Homo sapiens: one gene and its partners. The protein of the gene in region 7 purifies or fractionates together with the protein of the main gene of each other region. This does not show direct contact. Each region holds a gene or a part of one and is shown on either strand. Other genes may lie near its edges.

The links.
Region 1: the proteins of DBR1 (region 7) and SPAG9 purify together in Homo sapiens (affinity purification with mass spectrometry, with the first as the bait; one large-scale study listed by BioGRID). This does not show direct contact.
Region 2: the proteins of DBR1 (region 7) and WDHD1 purify together in Homo sapiens (affinity purification with mass spectrometry, with the first as the bait; one large-scale study listed by BioGRID). This does not show direct contact.
Region 3: the proteins of DBR1 (region 7) and TOPBP1 purify together in Homo sapiens (affinity purification with mass spectrometry, with the first as the bait; one large-scale study listed by BioGRID). This does not show direct contact.
Region 4: the proteins of DBR1 (region 7) and SMNDC1 purify together in Homo sapiens (affinity purification with mass spectrometry, with the first as the bait; one large-scale study listed by BioGRID). This does not show direct contact.
Region 5: the proteins of DBR1 (region 7) and HNRNPUL1 purify together in Homo sapiens (affinity purification with mass spectrometry, with the first as the bait; one large-scale study listed by BioGRID). This does not show direct contact.
Region 6: the proteins of DBR1 (region 7) and CYLC2 purify together in Homo sapiens (affinity purification with mass spectrometry, with the first as the bait; one large-scale study listed by BioGRID). This does not show direct contact.

The regions. Positions count from the first base shown.
Region 1 is NC_000017.11:51,114,369-51,117,868, reverse strand, and holds part of SPAG9 (C-Jun-amino-terminal kinase-interacting protein 4), read left to right. Parts: intron 1-3,500. UniProt on the Homo sapiens protein: The JNK-interacting protein (JIP) group of scaffold proteins selectively mediates JNK signaling by aggregating specific components of the MAPK cascade to form a functional JNK signaling module.
Region 2 is NC_000014.9:54,961,100-54,964,599, reverse strand, and holds part of WDHD1 (WD repeat and HMG-box DNA-binding protein 1), read left to right. Parts: intron 1-1,427; coding exon 1,428-1,648; intron 1,649-1,746; coding exon 1,747-1,862; intron 1,863-2,048; coding exon 2,049-2,102; intron 2,103-3,500. UniProt on the Homo sapiens protein: Core replisome component that acts as a replication initiation factor. Binds directly to the CMG complex and functions as a hub to recruit additional proteins to the replication fork.
Region 3 is NC_000003.12:133,616,942-133,620,441, reverse strand, and holds part of TOPBP1 (DNA topoisomerase 2-binding protein 1), read left to right. Parts: intron 1-94; coding exon 95-287; intron 288-2,008; coding exon 2,009-2,229; intron 2,230-3,115; coding exon 3,116-3,282; intron 3,283-3,500. UniProt on the Homo sapiens protein: Scaffold protein that acts as a key protein-protein adapter in DNA replication and DNA repair. Composed of multiple BRCT domains, which specifically recognize and bind phosphorylated proteins, bringing proteins together into functional combinations.
Region 4 is NC_000010.11:110,290,230-110,292,575, reverse strand, and holds the end of SMNDC1 (survival of motor neuron-related-splicing factor 30), read left to right. Parts: 3' UTR 1-1,846; downstream 1,847-2,346. UniProt on the Homo sapiens protein: Involved in spliceosome assembly.
Region 5 is NC_000019.10:41,288,372-41,291,871, forward strand, and holds part of HNRNPUL1 (heterogeneous nuclear ribonucleoprotein U-like protein 1), read left to right. Parts: intron 1-3,500.
Region 6 is NC_000009.12:102,998,333-103,001,832, forward strand, and holds part of CYLC2 (cylicin-2), read left to right. Parts: intron 1-3,245; coding exon 3,246-3,286; intron 3,287-3,500. UniProt on the Homo sapiens protein: Plays a role in the establishment of normal sperm morphology during spermatogenesis. It is required for acrosome attachment to the nuclear envelope, and proper manchette elongation and disassembly.
Region 7 is NC_000003.12:138,160,488-138,162,704, reverse strand, and holds the end of DBR1 (lariat debranching enzyme), read left to right. Parts: intron 1-122; coding exon 123-816; 3' UTR 817-1,717; downstream 1,718-2,217. UniProt on the Homo sapiens protein: Cleaves the 2'-5' phosphodiester linkage at the branch point of excised lariat intron RNA and converts them into linear molecules that can be subsequently degraded, thereby facilitating ribonucleotide turnover.

The DNA of each region.
Region 1 (3,500 bases), on a different chromosome or scaffold from region 7:
AGCCACCACACCCGGCCATCAGTTTTCACATAAGATCATAAATTGTGTGTTGCTCAGTATCCAGAAATTGTCTCCCTTTGGCCAATATGTAGAGTGAATTCTGTGTTTAGTTTTCTGTGAGTGCTTTGTTTGCGCCTTTTTTTTTTTTTTTTTTTTTTTTGAGACGGAGTCTTGCTCTGTCACCCAGGCTGGAGTGCAGTGGCACAATCTTGACTCACTGCAGCCTCCGCCTCCCGGGTTCAAGCGATTCTGCCTCAGCCTCTTGAGTAGCTGGGATTACAAGCACGTGCCACCACGCCTGGCTAATTTTTTTGTATTTTTGGTAGAGACGGGGTTTCACCATTTTAGCCAGGATAGTCTCAATCTCCTGACCTCGTGATCTGCCCGCCTCAGCCTCCCAAAGTGCTGGGATTACAGGCATGAGCCACCGTGCCGGCCTGTTTGTGTCTTTAATGCGGAGACCAAGAGTCTTTTATACCAAAGTAAGTGCCTCAGGGTATTTACAGCAAAAGTGATTTGAAAGCATGGAAATTATCCATCACCAGAGAGAGTAAAGTAAATTCTGAGCACCTCTGTGGAAACTTAGGTGGGTATGTAGATAGAATGTTTTAGGAATGTGTGAGGTGCTATGATCTCTTGCTTGCAGGAATTCTCAGCAAGGCATCAAAAATTTAATCTTTATATTGATAGGACATATTTTGAATACCTTCTGACTTTTTCCTTTGCTTTTATTTGAATTTCTAGTGTGGAGCTAGTCTGCTGTTTTAGGGATTCTTTAAAAACAACCTAAAGAAGGGCTAATTTTAGATAGATTTGGACCGGTTTCAGATGCTAATCAAGAAATCTGTCATCTTATCGCCCATCACTCTCTCCTTTGGGCTGCCTGTGACACACCTCTCCATTCTTTAACCAAGACCCGTCTGATGCCTTTGCCCATGCTCTAGAATGCTCTCCTTAGAATTTTACATAGCTAGCTCCTCACTTTCTACTCTGTTTCAATTTCACTTTTTCAGCCAGAACATCCTGTTGACTCTATCCAGAATAAGCCCTGTGAACCTATTGAATAATTTATTTTAAAATCAGTGACTTTTAAATTTAAATTCTTTTTGGAGACAGAGTCTCAATCGCCTAGGCTGGGGTGTAGTGGCACAGTCACAGTTCACTGCAGCCTCAATCTCTTGGGCTCAAGTGATCCTCTTGCCTCAGCCTCCTGAGTAGCTAGGACCACAGACATGCGTTACCACACTGGGCTAATTAAATTTTTTACAGAGACAAGGTCTCACTGTGTTGCCCAGTCTGGTCTGGAACTCCTGGGCTCAAGTGATCCTCCTGCCTTGTGGATCCTGCCAAAGTGTTGGGACTTACAGGGGTGAGCCACTGTGCCCCAGCCCAGTGATTTTTTAAAATAAAAATCTGGATACAAAATGATCTGGAGAGAGAGGTTATAACTGGGTATGTTAGGGTTTTTCTGCAACTTCTGATTCTTTTAAAACAGGCATGATTTGCTGTAACTTTTAAAAAAGGGCCAGGTGTGGTGGCTCACATCTATAGTCCCAGCACTTTGGGAGGCCGAGGCAGATGGATCACTTGAGGTCAGGAGTGTGGGACCAGCCTCGCCAACATGATGAAACCCTGTCTGTACTAAAAATACAAAAATTATCTGGGTGTGGTGGTGGGTGCCTGTAATCCCAGCTACTGGGGAGGCTGATGCAGAAGAATTGCTTGAACCCGGGAGATGGAGGTTGCAGTGAGCTGGGATCGTGCCTCTGTACTCCAGCCTGGGCAGTAGAGTGAGACTACCTCTCAAAAAAGAAAAAAGAAAAAAAAAAGAAACTTCTGAAAAGTAGACATACGAGTTTAAAGAACCTTTAGGAATTTAGTTCTTAGTGATTCTGTGGGTCTTTTATGTTATCACTGTTATTCTCAAAGTGAGAGCTCATTTAGCATCATTCAGTAGAGGGAGATTACACATAAAAACGAAGAGGCATTGTCTTCCTTCCTTTTCTTTTTCTTTTCTTTTCTTTTCTTTTCTTTTTTTTTGAGATGGAGTTTCTCTTGTTGCCCAGGCTAGAGTGCAATGGTGCCATCTCGGCTCACTGCAACCTTCGCCTCCTGGGTTCAAACAGTTCTCCTGCCTCAGCCTCTCAAGTAGCTGGGATTACAGGCATGCGCCACCACGCCTGGCTAATTTTGTATTTTTAGTGGAGTTGGGGTTTCTGCATGTTGGTCAGGCTGGTCTTGAACTCCTGACCTCAGGTGATCCGCCCGCCTTGGCCTCCTAAAGTGCTGGGATTGCCACTGTGAACCACCGCGCCTGGCTCCTTCCCTCCTTTTTGAGATAGACTCATACATGCAGAGAATGGACTGAAGAGAGAATATCTTTACTGGGAATGGATTATGTGATTTTGTGTCTGCTTTTTTGTGGCCTTTTGCTTTAAAAAAAAAAAAAAAAGGATGAGTTCAAGCCTGGGCAACGTAGTGAGACCCCTCTTCCCCAAAAACCATAAAAAAAATTAGTTGGGTGTGATGGTGTGAGCCTGTAGTCCTAGCTACTCAGGAGGCTAAGGCAGGAGGATCACTTAAGCCCAGGAGTTTGAGACTGCAGTGAGTTATCATGGCCACGGCACTCCAGCCTTGACAACAGGGCAAGACCCTGTTTCTTACCAAAAAACAAAACAATAGGATGACTGAATGCAGAGGTGAGAGACACTACTGAGAATTTTCTAACTTGTTCCCATGGAATCAGCACTTAAAGCAGTAACAAAATGATTTTTGTTTAAATGGAGACTTTTGACACTTCTTGTCTTTGGAAGTGTATGAACATGGGACCCGTAAGACTCATGGGCAGGAAAATAGGTATTGACATTCATTGTTCTTGTTTTAGTGTTCTCATTCATTCATAATTTTTTTTTTTTTTGAGACAGAGTCTCACTCTGTCACCCAGGCTGGAGTGCAGTGGCACTATCCCAGCTCATTGCAACCTCTGCCTCCCAGGTTCAAGCAATTCTCCTGCCTCAGCTGCCTGAGTAGCTGGGATTACAGGTGTGCACCACTACACCCGGCTAATTTTTGTATTTTCAGTAGAGACAGGGTTTCACCATGTTGGCCAGGGTGGTGTAAAACTCCTGACCTCAAGTGATTCATCTGCCTCAACCTCCCAAAGTGCTGGGATTACAGGCGTGAGCCACCACACTTGGCCCACACTTGATATTTTATTTTTTAATTTTATTTATTTTTGAGACTGAGTTTCACGCTCTGTTGCCCAGGCTGGGGTGCAGAGGCACGATCTTGGCTTACTGCAACCTCTGCCTTCTGGATTCAAGCAGTTCTTCTGTCTCAGCCTTCTGAGTAGCTGGGATTATAGGCATGAGCCACCATGCCCAGCTACTTTTTGTATTTTTAGTAGAGATGGGGTTTCACCATGTTAGCCAGGCTGGTCTTGAACTCCTGACCTTGTTATCTGCCTACCTTGGCCTGCCAAAGTGTTGGGATTACAGGCA
Region 2 (3,500 bases), on a different chromosome or scaffold from region 7:
TGGCGCGATCTCTGCTCACTGCAAGCTCCGCCTCCCAGGTTCACGCCATTCTCCTGCCTCAGCCTCCCGAGTAGCTGGGACTACAGTTGTCTGCCACCACACCAGCTAATTTTTTGTATTTTTAATAGAGACTGTGTTTCACCGTGTTAGCCAGTATGGTCTCGATCTCCTGACCTTGTGATCCACCTGTCTCAGTCTCCCAAAGTGCTAGGATTACAGGTGTGAGCCACTGCGCCCGGCTTCCTTTTTATTTCTAAATGCCCCCTGAGGCAGTGTACCATCCCGATTAAGAAGTACTGATTATAGATAAATGATACTAAAAATCTTGAAAAGGGCATCCAGGTGAATATCTAAAGCTTTTGTGCTGATGGATCAGACATGGAATATCTAAGTAAGAAAATAGTTCTAATACACTATGAATTAGGAGACCCTTAGTAATCTTCAAAATACCAACTTTTCTCAGTTTGTTGTTTTTCTTTTTTGTATTTTTTAGAGAAAGGGTCTCACTCTGTTACCCAGGCTAGAGTACAGTGGCAAGATTGTAACTCACTGCAGCCTCAACCTCCTGGGCTCTAGTGAACCTCCTGTCTCAGGCTCCTGAGTAGATAAGACTGCAGGTGCATGCCACCACGCCCAGCTAATTTATTTTTTGTAGTTATAGGGTCTCACTGTGTTGCCCAGGTTAGTCTCAAACTCCTGGCCTCTAGCAGTCCCTCTGCCTTGGCCTTCCAAAGTGCTAGGATTACAGGTGTGAGCCAGCACACCTGGCCCCCTTGATTTTTTTTTTTTTTTTTTTTTTTGAGACAGAGTCTCGCTTTCTCGCCCAGGCTGGAGTGCAGTGGTGCAATCTTGGCTCACTGCAACCTCCACCTCCCGGGTTCAAGCGATTCTCCTGCCTCAGCTTCCCGAGTAGCTGGGATTACAGGCGCACGCCACCACGCCTGGCTAATTGTGTTTTTAGTAGAGACGGGGTTTTGCCATATTGGCCAGGCTGATCTCGAACTCCTCACCTCATGATCCACCCATCTGGGCCTCCCAAAGCACTGGTATTACAGGCGTGAGCCACCGTGCCCAGCCTCCCCCTTGAATTTTTTAAACAAATTTCTTAATTTTCTTGCAATTAGTAGATTAAAGTGGTATGTAATATTTCATCAAATCTAAGCCACTGTTTATTGCATAGTGCACCATTACTTTATTCATTTAAGCCATGGAGACATAAAAATGCTGCCAAACTGACCCACCATTAATTGTAATTAATTGTAATTCCAATTTCAGAGATGTTAAAACTTGTAAAAATGTGCATCTTAGAATTAGGGAGATAGAGTAGCTAGAAAACTATTGTCTCAGTTTTACTAGTAGTGTCAGTATCTTTAAAAAGTTTTACTTGATGTTATTTGATCTCCCCCCCCCCCCCCTTTTTGGATTAGCTTTCTTGTAAACTGGAGCGAGAATTCCGTTGTGTGGAACTTGCTGATCTAATGACTCAAAATGCTGTGAATTTAGCCATTAAATATGCTTCTCGCTCTCGGAAATTAATACTGGCTCAAAAACTAAGTGAACTGGCTGTAGAGAAGGCAGCCGAATTGACAGCAACCCAGGTGGAAGAGGAAGAAGAAGAAGAAGATTTCAGAAAAAAGCTGAATGCTGGGTAAGAAATAATTTAGTTGTTTGAATTTTCCTTTACTGTCTTGAATGTTAAGTTGGTCTTTGCATAGCTCTTTATTGAATAATATTATTTTCTCTTAGTTACAGCAATACTGCTACAGAGTGGAGCCAACCAAGGTTCAGAAATCAAGTTGAAGAAGATGCTGAGGACAGTGGAGAAGCTGATGATGAAGAAAAACCAGAAATACATAAGCCTGGTGAGATACATTTTCAAGCCCATAAATCATGAGAACTATCATGGATGTGGCTTTTCCCATTTTGCTTAACTGAGGGAAATTGAATACTCATACTTTTTTTCAGACCTCTTTGCTATCTGGTTGTTGTATATTGAGGATGACTATATTTTCCCCATTTACATTATATTGCTTTATTTTAATCTGTAGGACAGAACTCGTTTTCCAAAAGTACAAATTCCTCTGATGTTTCAGCTAAGTCAGGTGAGAAATATTTATAAATTTGTAATATCAAGGAAATTTTGCAAGTCATCTGCAAAGTGACACATCTACGCAAATACACCTTAACTCTTAAGGCCACTTTTGGTGTGTGTGTGTTTATGTTTTTGTTTTTTTAATCTCAGATGTTGTTTGTGAAGCTATGGTCATTTAACAGATGTTTATAAAATGCCTATTGAGTGTCAGGCATTTTACTTAATGGTGGATACAGAAGTCAAACAGACATGTGTGGTTGATCTCTGTTTTAATGCTATTTTAGCCCAGCTGAGAAGACAGATGTTGAAGACAGATCTGGGTATCACTGAGGAAGCATGCAGGATACTGGAGAAACAGTTAAAAGGAATTGAAGGCTGGGCGCAGTGGCTCACGCCTGTAATCCCAGCACTTTGGGAGGCCGGAGTGGGCGGATAACGAGGTCAGGAGTTCTAGACTAGCCTGGCCAACACGGTGAAACCCCATCTCTACTAAAAATACAAAAATTAGCTGAGGGTGGTGGTATGTGCCTGTAATCCCAGCTACTCGGGAGGCTGAAGCAGGAGAATCACTTGAACTCAGGAGGTGGAGGTAGCAGTGAGCCGAGATCGTGCCATTGCACTCCAGCCTGGGCAATGGAGTGAGACTCCATCTCAAAAAAAAAAAAAAGGAGTTGAAAATGGTTGCGTACAGGGAGTGGGCCTGGGGGATAAGAGAAGGTTGAAGTAAGGCACTGCTGGCCCTTTTTTGGTGGGGAGCATAAACCTTATAGTACCATTTGACTTTTTAAACTGTGGACATATGTTACTTTGATTTAAAAAAATTAACTTAAAAAACATGTAGAATATGAAAAGAGCGTATGACACATAGCTGTCATCTAGCCAGTGGTGGAGGATGGGTAGGGACTTCAAGGCAGGCCTCATGGAGTGTTTACAGCAGAGACCTGAAGGATGAATAACAGTCAGCAAGGCAAAGGTGCATGGGAACAGGAGCAGAAGAGAAGCATTTGGGCTTAAGGAACAGTATGTGTGAACTGAAGGCTGCAAAAGGGTGGTGTGAAAAGCTCAGAGAGCAAAGAGAAAGTGGTGCTGAAGGGTTTCGGAGTGATGGGCAGGAGCCAAGTCATGCAGATCTGTGTAGGCCATATTAAGGATTTTGGTCTTTTTTTTATTTTATTTTATTTTTTTTAATAGAGATGGGGTGTCACTCTGTTGTCCAGGCTGGTCTCAAACTCAAGCAATTTCCTCACCTCCACATCCCAAAGTTGTTGGACCTGCAGGTGTGAGCCACCACACCCGGTCAGGATTTTGCTCTTTATTCTAAGGTCACTGAGAGACTGTTGTAGGTTTTAAGCAGAGGTATAGCATGGCACACTGTGCTGAAGAAGAACAGATAATAGACTACTGGCCA
Region 3 (3,500 bases), 4.5 Mb from region 7:
TTTGTGTTCAACCAGGTCTAAACAAAATAGTTAATGTAAGATATGGTAAAAAAGAGGAACTTACCTTGAATGGTGTATTTGTGTTTGTTTCAAGTTCTGACACAGACCTTAGAGATGAGAGAGAACTTTCAGAAGCAGTTACAGGAGATAATGTCTGCAACATCAATAGTGAAACCCCAAGGGCAGAGGACTTCCCTTTCAAGAAGTGGTTGTAACAGCGCATCTTCAACCCCTGACAGCACTCGCTCTGCTCGCAGTGGACGAAGTAGAGTCCTAGAGGCACTGAGGTGTGTACCTGTCACTGATGGCAGAAAGACTAGATGACTTGAGAGAAAGGATTTACGTACCTGCTGCTGACTCAATTCCATGAGCTTGGCCTAATTTAGCTTTTTTTTCTTTTTTTCCCCAATATGCAGTAAAAGCTGAAATTTAAATATCAAGACTAGTGAAGGGGTTATATGCCTAGGCCTTATTTAGCCCAAACAGTAAATATTATATTCCAGTATTATCTATTGCTTTTGGCTCTCTGCTGACTAGATTTTTCGTTCTAGCTTGTCCTTCCATTTCTTGCTCCCAGCAGTTCTAGATTTCTTACTCGGAGGTGGAGCAGACATGGAGATTTGTCTTACAGCAGCACCTGCTTCACAGTGAGGCATGATTGATACTTTTTATTACCTCCGTTGAGAAAGAAATGATTTTAAGATCTAATTTGCCTCATTTGAAATGGATTCAGTAGGCAGTTCTCTCTGCTCTTTAGTATTAGTATTCAATAGTATTTGTATTAAACAATAAGTACATATATATTTTTTCAGAGTCTTTTTCTAATGCAATATGTAAAATCTTAAAGTTATTTTTGTTGGGATTTTGCATGCATTTTGTATTCTCCTTGTAAAATTTATCTTCTAGAAAAGGTGATTACAGTTTCTAGTGTGATGTGACTTAAGCTCAGTTGCATAACTTCATCTTTTTCGTGATAGAAGAAAAAAATCTATAATTGTGTGATAAGAATTATGGGACTTGTATTTTCAGTTGACTAATTGAATTAAGTATAAGATAAACTAGCATTTATCTTACGCTAACTGTATTACATGAGGCAGTTCATTATCTCAGTACTGAGTAAAGTAGCTTTTTAATATGCTTCAGATCATGTTTTATCATTATAGAGAACCTAAATCCTGTACCAAATCAGAGTAAATAAATATAGTGTGAGAATAAAAGGCTATATTCTTTATTTTTGAAGCAAAGGAACTATTTGGGGGTTCCTTTGGTAAATTGTTTTATGGGTTTTGGTGTTTTGTTTTGTTTTTTGTTTTTTGTTTTTTTTTTTTTTGCTTCTCCACAGTGTAAGTTTTATGGTAAATTATTTTTACTAAGAATGAATGAATGAGTGAATATAAAGAAAATTATAGGACTTCTATTTACTGTCACGTGGAATCATTACAATCGCACCATAAAATGCACTTCCCTGTAATTCAGCATATTGCTGTTCCACCGTAGACTCTGGAAAGTGGTTACCAATAGCCAAAAGGCCCTTCTGATAAGGCAGCCTTTACAGCAAGCCTCCCATGTAATCATAGTGCTTATAATTTCAAGTAATTAAAAAATATAACTACTGTTAAGTAAAGTAACCATAGTGTTTGAAACATTACCCTGTTTCCCTAACCTGTATAATTAAGGAAAATCACATTTTTAAATGTACCAATTACTTTAGTATTTTTAAAAAATTTCTTGACACTGTTGAATTTCTCCTTTGAAGTTTTAGTTCTGTAGACATGTAGTCAAAATATGTGTTCCTAGCTAAAACAGATAACTTTTCTGGAAGAAACCTTAAACCTTTTTAAAAAAAAAAAATGTCCCTAGGTTCATTTATTTAATATTTTTAATGCATACTGTGTGCTAGATGGTGGGCATATAAAGGTGAGCCACAACTTTTATGGTCTAACTTATGGATTTAATGAGTTTGGATTTGTTATTGCTGTTTATTTAAACTGTCACTTCTATTCCTTAGGCAGTCTCGTCAGACAGTACCTGATGTCAACACAGAGCCTTCCCAAAATGAACAGATCATTTGGGATGACCCTACAGCAAGGGAGGAGAGAGCAAGGCTTGCCAGCAATTTGCAGTGGCCTAGTTGTCCCACACAATACTCTGAGCTTCAGGTTGACATTCAAAACTTGGAGGATTCTCCTTTTCAAAAGCCTTTACATGATTCAGAAATTGCTAAACAGGGTAACAAGAAAGAAATCTTTGCATTTGTTTGTATTAAGTACATGTTGACCTCTTAAAAATAAACAGATGAGCATGTTGTAGTTCTCTGATCTGAATGTGCAAACAAAAAAAACTTCGTAGATATTTCTGGTTTTGGTTTAAACTTGAGCCAGAAAAATAATTTGTAAATTGAGGTACTTCATCAGTAAATTGAAAAACATTTTCATAAATTTGGAAATTTAGAATTGGGCGTTTTTTTCTAGACATGGTGTCTACCATTGTTCTTTTATTCTAGCTAACCCTTTTTGTGTTTGTGGAGTTAATGCTTGGTTTTTCTTCCTATCATCTTATTTTCATTTAAGTCTTTTGAATTCTGCCTAGCACATACCTACATTTGTTCTTTGGATTGTATGAGTTTCTTTCTGAATTCTCCTATTTTTTTTCTTCCTTGAGCTTTACCTTAAAAACAAAATTTTCCTATCTCTCATCTTTTTTCTTCCTTTTCTTCTTTTTCACATTGCATGATGACCTCCCATTAGATATATAGATTTATCTCTGCTTCTGCTTTTCTCCAAGTGTAGAATTGCTCTCATGTTACAAATTTGGGTTACACTTAACAATGAAAACTTGGTATTTAAGGAAAATGTTGGGAGAAGCCCACAGATAACACACTTGCTCTGTTTAATGCTAATAAATTGCATTTTTTCTTTATTGTTATTATTGTCACATGCAGATGGGATGCATTTATTTATAAGTTCTGGGGATAGGATACTTTTTTGCCTGTACTTTTTACATTCCAGAGTTTGTGCTTGACTTCATCTTGACTAAGACAGATGAGAATATTTCCTAGAATTTGTTTTTAGTCTTATTTGGATCCTGTCACACTGCAGCATTTTATTGTCCTCAGCTGTCTGTGATCCTGGAAACATACGTGTGACTGAAGCTCCCAAACACCCAATCTCTGAAGAACTGGAAACTCCCATAAAAGACAGCCACCTGATCCCTACGCCTCAAGCCCCCAGTATTGCCTTTCCACTCGCCAACCCCCCTGTGGCTCCGCACCCTAGAGAAAAGGTTTGTTGATCCTTAATATGGTGATACAGCTTTTGCATACTGCTGTTAGGCTGTATTAGAAATTTGTTGATGTCAATATCAAGGCTTCATCAAATGTTGAAAACTATTTTTTGCATTGTATCATTATTTGTATATTTCATAACTTAGAAGACTGAGTAAAATACCACTATAAAAGAACTGTGTATCTGATCATTTTTAATGTTAATTTTTTCTAAAGT
Region 4 (2,346 bases), on a different chromosome or scaffold from region 7:
TTGTTATTGTAACATCTTAAGAGCTTATCAATAATCAAGAGTAGCCTTGATGGATTGCAAGAGAATCCTTTGAATTAAAAAGCACTGGGAAGAAATTTGGTGTCATTGTGTGACCCCAGAAAATGGTTGTTGAGATTACCTTGGTGGTATTAGAATAGTAATTCACTTGATGTTTGTGTAGGCAGGACTGTTAACAGTCTTGTCCCTCTTTTGACCCTGGGGGGCCTTAGTTTTCCCAGAGGACTTTGCAGTAGGAGAGAGAAAAAGAATAAAAGTGACCTTAAAAAAAAATGTTTTGAAAATAGACCTTTAGAATGAAATCAGCAACCTTTGTGTCAAAGATCTAGATGTGGCCCTTTGGAAAATCCTAGTGTCAGGATGATGTTTGTGTCTCTGAACTAAGAGGCAGGACTCCTGGGGAGACTACCTGTCACAGTGTGATACTGAATTTGAGAAGATGCTCAATGAGAAGCATGATACCCACAGTATTTTACAGTTGAAGGTGGTTAAGCTCTCTATATTCTGAAACAAAATATAAACCTTGACCTTAAAAAGCTTTGTTAGAAAATTTAATGTAGAGTTTTCCCCATTAAGAAAGGAGACTTGAAGCTTTGAAACTGTGACAGACTGAAATGTTAAATATTGAGTTATGGGCCCCTAAGTAGAAATGGTTGCATGTAACTTACCAAAGCTTGACGTTTGACTGTTGTTACCATTTCAAGGAAAGAACAGTCCTAACCTCCCGAAAATAAAATGTTGAGTTTTAGTGGTAATCACAGGTAACAAGTGCTATTTTAATTAACATGTAGGGAGGCCACAGAGCATACTGGAAAACAGCAAGGACTCTAGAGCCAGACTAGTGTTTGTTTATTACCATTTATTACCTGTGTATTCCCATTTATTACCTGTGTATTCCTCTGATTCATTTTTCTCAGCTGTAGAATGGAAAAATCTGTTTCAGTTTTAAGGATTGAATTCAAATGTGTAAATAGCTTAAGAGTATCCGGCATAAGCACTATAGAAGCGTCTGCTATTACTCTGCAGAGTGGCAGTGGTGAATTATCTGATATTTTTTCCTTAACTTGAATAGCAATCCACATTACAATGGATAACAATACCCATTGTTTATGATTTGAGGCATCCAATTATAACTGTATTATTGAAGTGTTATCAAATTACCAAGGCTGTAGGGTATATTTAGTATTCCTAGTTAAAGGTTTGAACTAATTTGTATACTAGGGCATGTTTCTTAATGGGAAGGGGGTGAAGGTTATAATAAAAGTCACCCCTAATGCTTGTTTAAAATTAAAGAGGAATTTGTGGGCCTGGGACCAACCTTAGACTTATCCAGGCCAAGGTATGTTGTTTGACGAACACCGCAGGTGATCCTGATGTGCATCCCCGTCTGAGAACTGTTAACTATAAAAGTTTGACTTTGGAAATGAAGAAAAATTACCTTTTAGCCTAATCATGAAGACTAGGCGTCAAACCAAAACAAGATGCATCAGTTACTGTAGCAACACATTTTTTTTAAAAAATTGCTTGTTGTCACAATGAAGGGTGTGTGTCTGTTTCCAGTATGCAATTCTAATGCCAAATGTCTGCCTTAAAAATAGCAAAGGAGACCATCAGGTTAACATAAAGGAAAACTGTAGTTGTGTGACTCATGTGTCTGTAGATTGTAATTTTATAATTACAATTTTTATAAGATAAAAAACTACCAGTTGTAAATTCAACCAAAAAAAATTTAAAGCTTTGATTTAGCTTTTTGCTTTAACTTGGGTAGTAACTGAAATATAAAGGAAGAAAATCTATTAAAACCAATGAGGTTTTATATTTTTTTAAATCTTGATTCAATAAATATCAGCTGAATTAAGTATCTGTATGGTACTACGAAGCAATCAATTAGTATAAATGGCAATTTACAAGTTCAACAGTAAATGTAAACATTCTTTGTATCTAGGATTTTTGAGTTGCAAGTTAAACTGAATTTTTACTGCAGTAGAGAGGAGGAGCATAGCAGGCAAAATAACAGGTAATACTGTATTTTAAACAAACAGAAAAACCCAAGTAATTGGCGCCCTTTATCCAATCATCTTTTAAAAGGCCTATGTATGTGTATAGTTATGTTCTTAAGAAACATCTTAAGAGGTTCAGAAATCAATTTTATAGATGGAACATTTTAATAATTCGTTTTGGCCTAGCCAAAAGAGTAAAATAAAACAAAATAGTGTTAGATTTCTGTGAGGTGTTTTAATTGCCTTTTCTGCCTTTTAACTTATGTATATAAAGGTGGTTCTTTTGTGGCCTTGATTGGGGTAAAGCAGAACTGAGAATAATAGGGGT
Region 5 (3,500 bases), on a different chromosome or scaffold from region 7:
AGTGCTGGGATTACAGGCATGCGCCAGCATGCCCGGCTAATTTTGTAGTTTTAGTAGAGACAGGGTTTCACCATGTTGGTCAGGCTGGTCTCGAACTCCCGACCTCAGGTGATCTGCCCTCCTTGGCCTCCCAAAGTGCTGAGATTACAAGCGTGAGCCACCATGCCCGGCCTTGGTGGGGATCTTTTTATGGTACTACCAAGAGAGCTTCTTTGTACTTTTATATTGTCTGTAGTCATTGTATGACTGTACCATAATTGATTTAACCTAGCGCCTCCCTTTGGTGGACATGTCGTTACTTTTGCAGCTTTGTATTTAGTGACTGTAATGGCTGTCTAGTATTCTGATGCAGGGGTTTGGGTACCCTGCTTTAATTTAGCCCGTCTTCCTGTTAGTGGCTGTGAAAGTTGTTTCCTGGAACAGATAAATGCGGCTTGTCTTTTTTCCATTTACTGGAGTAACTTGGAGATCTTTTTGTAGCCCCACATATGGATCTCCTGTGCAATTTAGCCACTCCTACTTCCCCATTGGAGCACATTTTCCGTGCTGGCATGAGCATTTTGCACATAGAATTTTGCATTCTTGTGGGAATGTAGTTGTATTCCTTCTTGAAAGTTAGATTCTAAGTCAAAGGTATATTTTTAAATTTTCATAGCTACCACCAAGACTACACTCCAAACAGGTTGCAGTAATTTAACTTGTCACTGTGTGACAGTGTTTGCCAAAGTCTGTTCTTTCAGAGTATGAGGTTCTTTTGGTATGTGGCAGTATGGAACTCTAGGCCTTGACTCTTGCTTCAACCAGAACATCTCTGCATCCAGTCTTAAGATTCCTTATATAGTTTTCTTTGTTCAGAAGATACCACAACTTTAAAAAGGCTCAGGGTGAGGAGTTGGTGGGGGTGTAAAAATCATTGGTCTCCTGGAACAAGAGGGGAGGACATTGGTGTCAAATATCAAGTCCTCAATTTGCAAAACAAAAAGGTAAAACAGCCTTCCAAGTGGAGAACAGAATAACCCATTTCAGCAAACCATAAAGAGTATGATACTTAGAGCCTAGGGACAACAGAAAGAGGTGTGAGACACCAGGCTATAAAAATGGCAGGCTCTGAATTATGCCAGGCTTCAGGAGTTTGGGTCTTTAGGCCTGGGACTGACACAGGAGTGTTTCAGCAGGAACAACAACACAACTCCACTTGCCTTTTGGACAGATGGCTCTGTTGGTGGTAGATGGGTTGGTTGAGGGCGCCGGTTTCTGTGCATTATGGGAAGTTCCTATAGTGAAGCTGGTGGCCATAAGGAAGGCTAACTAACACCAACAGTCATACCTGCTCTCCATGGTCTTTTTTTTTTTTTTTTTTTTGAGAAGGAGTCTTGCTGTTGCCCGGCTGGAGTGCTGTGACATGATCTCGGCTCACTGCAACCTCCAACTCCCTAGTTCAAGTGATTCTCCTGCCTCAGCCTCCTGAGTAGCTGGGATTACAGGCACTCGCCACCATGACCAGCTAATTTTTGTATGTTTAGTAGAGACGGAGTTTCACCATGTTGGCCAAGATGGTCTTGATCTCTTGACCTCATGATCTGCCCACCTCGGCCTCCCAAAATGCTGGGATTACAGGCGTGAACCACCACATCCAGCCGCTCTCCATGGTCTTGACGTGGGTGCATGCTTAGAGATGAACAGGCATGAGGGCCTCTGACACAGAGCTGTGCCCTGTGAGCACTGAGGAGGTTAATGAGGAAGCTCCTCAAGGGAGGGTGCTTCTGTCGCTTCTTGAAGGGCAATTCCCAAGGTGGTCACCTGAATAGAGAAAGAAATTATACTTTCATATCAGAAAGCGAACCGTGTATTTTGCTTCAGTCTGCTATCTAATCTCAAGTTTTGAGCCTTTTCTTCTCTGAGATGGGCATTTAGAAAAATATTTAACAAACGTTTTAAAAATATAAATTTTAAAAAGGCAAAAAAACACTAAGAAAAAAAAGAGCCTCTCGTATCCTGCAGCCAAAGCAATGTTTCCAAAACACAGTTTTGAGCAGGCTGCTCCTCTATTCAAAATAAGTCAGACACTCTGCTCTGCCACCAGCATCAAGTTCAAATTCCTGCGGTAAATTAGAGTCCCTCACATGCCGAGGTAGGCCGTGTCCCCTCCCACCACTTCAGTCCCAGCCCCTTATTTCTAGCACAGTGCCTGACATTTTGCAGTGATAGCTCACATTCCTTGTGTGCTCACTGTGTATTAAATGTACTAGCCCATTTAACAGTTAGAATAAACATAGGCTGTATAAAATATTATTACCCCGCCCCCCTTTTTTTGATAAAGAAACAAGATGAAATAACTTAACCAAGGCCACAAGTTAGTAAATGGTAGAACTGAAGCCATCCACCTTCTAAAATGGGATCATAGGCTAGGCGTAGTGGCTCACACCTGTAATCCCAGCACTTTGGGAGGCTGAGGCGGGTGGATCACCTGAGGTCAGGAGTTCGAGACCAGCCTGACCAACATGGAGAAACCCCGTCTACTAAAAATACAAAATTAGCCGGGCGTGGTGGCACATGCCTGTAATCCCAGCTAATTGAGGCAGGAGAATCGCTTGAACCCAGGAGGCGGAGGTTGTGGTGGGCCGAGATTGCGCCATTGCACTCCAGCCTGGGCAACAAGAGTGAAATTCCGTCTCAACAAAAAGAGGGGGGATCTTAATTACTAACTTTAGCAATTCAATAAGTAGTTGTTACAGAATAAATGAATGTGGTCCCTGCATGGCTCTTCAGCTGTTCCTGAATTACTTCCCCCTCATCTTTTATGCCTCAGCCAATCTGACCTTGTGTTCTGTCACTGCTAGGCTTATATACAAGCAACTGAGAAACCTCAGAAACTTGCTTCTAGGTAGGTCATCTTACTGAATTATGATAGAGTGTCCTTGTCTCATTCCCCACTGGTCGCTAAGCTCTGTCGGTCCCAGATTATGCAGACATGTGTATCAGAAAGAGTACGAACTCAGGGAACATGTTGAACAAGCTGAACTCAGTTCGAAAAGGCCCTGCGGTGGCTTTCCTTCATCTGTTATATTCATAGACTGCCCTTTCTGGGTTTCTTTTGTTTGTTTTTGTAGAGATGGGGTCTCTTTCTGTTACCCAGGCTGTACTTGAACTCCTGGCCTCAAGCATCCTCCTGCCTTGGCTGCTCAAAGTGATGGGATTATAGGCGTGAGCCACTGCACCTGTCTCCTCATCAGTTTTCAGGACAGGACTGGACCACCTTTTCCTTCGTCTTCATCTCAGTCTAGGCACAAGACTCAAATACTTGGAGCTTCTTAAAATTACCTGCTTTAGGACAGGTGCAGTGGCTCAAGCCTATAATTCCAACAGTTTGGCAGGCCAAGGTGGGAAGATCACTTGAGTCCAGGATTTCAAGACCAGCCTGGGCAACATAACAAGACCCTGTCTCTACAAAAAAATTTAAAAATTAGCCAGGTGTGGAACATGCCTGTAGTCCCAGCTAC
Region 6 (3,500 bases), on a different chromosome or scaffold from region 7:
TACATTCATATAAATATATCTCAAAATAAAAATAAGGGATATACTAAGTTTATTTTCAATAAGACAGTTTGTAAGTTTCTTTAATAAGAATGTCAAAAATTGAATGCAAATGCACCCTGACCTAGATAATTACTTGACTGTACCAGAGAGGAAAGGAAAGAGATGCTCTCACCAGCAAAGCCAGACTTAAAGAGTGGGAAAGTGCTATCAAATCCAAAAGATCAAATTGCTTTAATTGCTTATCACACACATTTGCATAGTCAGTAGGGGCAAGGGTATTTGGTTTATTGCTGTTTGGGTTCCTATAAATGATTCTTACTAAAAATGCAAGAGGTTAAAATGTATTGAACTGTCACTAACTCTAATCTCATAAACACTAAGAAATACATAGAAAACTTTGATCACACAAAAAAGATACATTATGACAGATTCCAGTCAATCCAACTTGCTTTTCTCCAACCAATGACTGTTCAGTTACCCTATAGAGTCTTCCTTATTTTTGAAGTGAATACAATAAAATTATATTGTGTATGTGCTAGTATTTCTGGACTTTTTCTTTCAATATAATATTCCTTTGTATTCATTAAAGTTTCTATATTGCACATATAAGTAATTTATTCCTTTCGATTGCTAAGAAGTATTCCATTACATTTACATAGCACACTTAGTTTATCCATTCCTTTGTTGATGGACACTTGAGTTGCTTTTAGTTTGAGGTTATTGTGAATAAAATTGCTATGAACATTTTTGTCTAAGTCTTTCTGTGGACTTTTGTTTTCTTCCTTTTCTTTATTTCCTAGAGGAAAAGTTTTAATTCACTTATGCAGCTTTTATATGTATTTTAATAACTTGTTTCTGTATAATTTGCTTTTGTGTTATTTCAAGTTTTAATTAATTTTCCTAAATTTTTATCTTCTAATTTTGCTGGTATATAGAAATATACTTCATTTAAACTATTTATCATATAATCATTAAACTAGTATAATTCATTAAACTCTGTATCATATAAACTTATTACATTTGATTGGCAGCTTTAACAGTTATTATTATAGATGTCACTGGATATCATATTTACCCAACTGTATCCTCTACAAATAAAGACAATTTTACTTCTTCCTTTTCAATCTTAGTGCTTTTATTGCTTTATGAAACAAAATAGGATCTGGATTTAAATGCTGAATAGATACAGTAGGTTTATCTTTGCCTTGTTTCTGATTTTTAAGGAAAGACAGTCAATATTCCTCCAATAAGTTTAATTTTAAAAACAGGCATTATCTAGATGTATTCTATCAATCTGTGGGCTATGTTCTCTATTGCTGGTTTTCTCTGACTTTTTAATTACGAATGCATATTACTTTCTTTCAAAAATTATTCTGCATATACTGAAATGATCAGATGATTTTTCTTATTTATTTTGTCAATTGGAATGATTGCATTGGTTGATTTTAGGTCAAACCAACCTCATATTCTGGAAAGTAAACCAGATGATCATGATGTATTAGCAATTTTATATGTTTGTCAGTATGATTTTTTAAATTTTAAGAAATTATGTGTCTATAATAATGTGGGATATTCATCTGTAATATGCATTTTTAGAATTGACCTCAAAAGGATTTGGGTTATTTATATTAGCCTTGAAAATGAGTTGAAACATACTTACTCCTCCTCTACTTCTTTTCTTATATTGTTTTCCTAGTTTCAATGGAGAGATGTAAAACATTGATTTTAAACATTTTTTATAATATAAAATATTAAAACTGTAAGTTATTCTCTATGAACTTTTAAGCAGTATTCTATCATTTTCATAATTATCTTATTGTTCAGTTGCTTCTTTTTAAATAGGTTTTCATTGTGATCTCTTTTGGACCACTGGTTCTTTAAAAGGAGCTGTTTAATTTTCAAATATTTATATATTGTCTAGATAATTTTATTATTGATTTCAAATTCAATTGCTGGGTGATTAAATAATATGTCCTAGCAATTATAGAAGAAATTAACAGATCATTCTATTTTGAAAATCTATTTTGAAAATATCAAGTTTAATAGTGTTTCATGAACTTAAAATCTTTCCTCTTCGAGAGCATTTGGAATAATGCAGTTCATAATCATTGTTGGGTATCAACATTTCTTCTGTAGTATATAAATGTACTTTGACTGGATCTGAATTTAGAGATTCAGATATGATGGGGCAAGTAATTTTGGTGCATGTACTCAGTTTAAGAAAATGATAGGCTGGATAACTTATTGGTGAAAACATATTAAATATTATTCAGCTAATACAAATTTTTATAGCACGAAAAAATGTGCCACGTTTTATGCTGCTAGCTTCATTCTTTAGTCAAGGTATCAAGATACTGCTTTTCTATGCTTAAACCTTAAGTTTTACACGCTGTCAAATAAACACCACGTGTGTGTTTGTGTATGAGCACAAAAGCCTCAAACTCACTCATGACCAACGATGGCTCTATATCCAAAATATAATGAAACAATGTAAAATAATATTTCTCTAATAGATCTTAGGATTGGTCTCCATCACCAATAAATAAAAATTAGATCGTAAAACACTCCTTCGTGGGAACAAACATGTTAAGATAGTAATAAAACAAATGGGAACCTACAAATGGAAAACAATTTGCAATATAGTTTCTTTTTCAGATTTTCTTTAAAAAGTAATGAAATTCCTTACGAATTTTTGTGGTCCACACTGACATATACACATGCACACACAAATTCACAGGTGCACATATAGGCCATTTAATAATTTGGATTTGGTGGAGTTTTTTGAGACTATTTTGAGGATATGCTTTTACATAAGCGTAGAGTTTACAAAGTGATACCTTGTTTCAAATTCAATTAAGAGAGAATTTGGAGCATGAACTGGGAAAAATAATTCAACTGTGTTTTTGTAATTTTTTTAAATGTATATTTTCAGATGTGCAATTTGCTTATACACACACAATACATATAAACAAATTGCACATCTGAAAATATACACACATATATGTGATACATGTATGTATATATAGTTTGTTTGATCGACCATTATTTAGTACTGTTGTAATTTGAAAACACATTTGCTCATCTCTATTATCCTGGAGATGAAGTAATCTTATATAACAAAAGATATCTGAGATTGTGAAATATTTCTCTAGTTGTTGGTTGCAGGTACTGGAGTAAAATAATGACAGTTTAAAACAGTGATTTTTATATAAATTAACTAAAACCTTTCTTTTTTGTTTTAATAGCCAAAGAGTAAACTTTGGGCCATATGATAATTACATTCCAGGTAAGAAAGCATTCAATATTTATTACAAAACAGGTGTGCTTAATTTTATGGTAAGTATTATCCTCTATTCAAAGTGATAAAGCAAACATTGCCATGGAATAAAATTGATAATTAACTATTTCCCAAGGAACCTTTCTTACAGGCCCAGTGAACACCTTTAATATATGTTTTGCTTTGTTTTGAATCCAAGGAAGTTTAAGTAAACATGCTCAGT
Region 7 (2,217 bases):
AAAATGGAATTTTGATAGATGGCTTATTTTTTATCCTTGCACCTGAAGTCTGTAATTAGATTTCATCATTTATTGTTTAGAGCTGATAAAATGTAAAAAGCTATTGTTTTGTACTTTTATAGGTGGGATTATAGTGCAACAGAAGAAGGTATGAAAGAAGTATTGGAAAAATTGAATCATGATCTCAAGGTTCCATGTAACTTTAGTGTAACAGCTGCTTGTTATGATCCTAGCAAGCCACAGACACAAATGCAGCTGATTCATAGGATCAATCCTCAGACAACTGAATTTTGTGCCCAACTTGGCATCATAGACATCAATGTTAGGCTTCAGAAGTCCAAGGAAGAACATCATGTGTGTGGTGAATATGAAGAACAGGATGATGTGGAGAGTAATGACTCTGGAGAAGACCAGAGTGAATATAATACAGACACATCTGCTCTGTCTTCTATTAATCCAGATGAAATAATGTTAGATGAAGAAGAAGATGAAGATAGTATTGTAAGTGCACATAGTGGCATGAATACACCATCGGTAGAACCTTCTGATCAAGCTTCTGAGTTTTCTGCAAGTTTCTCTGATGTCAGGATCTTGCCAGGCTCTATGATTGTATCTTCTGATGATACGGTGGATTCCACAATTGATAGAGAGGGGAAACCTGGTGGGACTGTGGAGTCAGGGAATGGAGAGGACTTAACCAAGGTGCCATTGAAGAGGCTGAGTGATGAACATGAACCTGAACAAAGAAAGAAAATTAAGAGGAGGAATCAAGCCATTTACGCTGCAGTGGATGATGATGATGACGATGCAGCTTAAGATGATTTACTTGTTTTGTTTTTGTGTTTGTTTTGTTTTTTTGAGATGGAGTTTCACTCTTGTCACCTAGACTGGAGTGCAATGGCGTGATCTCGGCTCACCGCAACCTCCGCCTCCCAGGTTCAAGCAATTCTCCTGCCTCAGCCTCCCAAGTAGGTGGGACTACAGGTGCCCGCCACCACACCCGGCTAATTTTTGCATTTTTAGTAATGACAGGGTTTCACCGTGTTGGCCAGGCTGGTCTCCAACTCCTGACCTCAGGCGATCCACCTGTCTTGGCCTTCTAAAGTGCTGGGATTACAGGCGTGAGCCACTGTGCCTGGCCGACAATTTACTTGTCTTAGTATTATATGTAGATATGTGATTTTTTGAGACTGTATTTTTAGAGCTGAATTTTTGACTAAAGACTTAACTTTATAATAATGAAGATACATTAGAGAATTTTAGTTAGATATTGACTTTATCTTTAGGCTTTTGTATGTTTCAGATGCAAACATATTAAAGTTTCATATATTTACTTGACTGGGTATCTTTTTTTTTGAAGACATACATTATTCACTTCCATTTTTACAATAAACACTTACTTAACATCTACTCTGTGCCAAGCACTCTGCTATAATATGGGACCATAAAGATGAGTAAGACAAGGATTTTTGCCTCCAAGGACTTGTTATCACTGTAAACATTTTGATGTATACAATATGGCTATATTATATTTTGTTTTATAAAATCAAGTCATTGTATATATTATGATGTATGCTTTCTTTTCATTTATTATAAATATTTTTCCTGATCAGCTTTTAATATCTGTCAAATAAAAATTGAAATTGAAGATGGTATATAAGATTTCAGGAAATAAACTACTCTGAATACTAAACATTGGTAAACGTACAATCTTAATTTGCTGAGATTAGTATAACCCTGCTGACTTTTGCATATTGAGTTTTTTTTGTTTTTTTTTTTTGAGATGCAATCTCACTCTGTCGTTCAGGAGTGCAGTGGGGAGATATCGGCTCACTACAAGCTCCGCCTCCTGGGTTCACGCCATTCTCCTGCCTCAGCCTCCTGAGTAGCTGGGACTACAGGCTCCCGCAACCATGCCTGGCTAATTGTTTGTATTTTGTTTAGTAGAGACGGGGTTTCACCGTGTTAGCCAGGATGGTCTCTATCTCCTGACCTCGTGATCTGCCCGCCTCGGCCTCCCAAAGTGCTGGGATTACAGGCGTGAGCCACTGTGCCCGGCCAGCATATTGTGTTTTAACTTTAGCTTTAATTTTCATGTAACTATAGTAACTATGTAGGTCATTTTTGGCATAGTTCACCCCATAGTTTTAATTACTAGCAAGGATCAAGCTGCACAAATAACTGCCCCTCATGCTGCGTGATGGATTGCTAAATTAA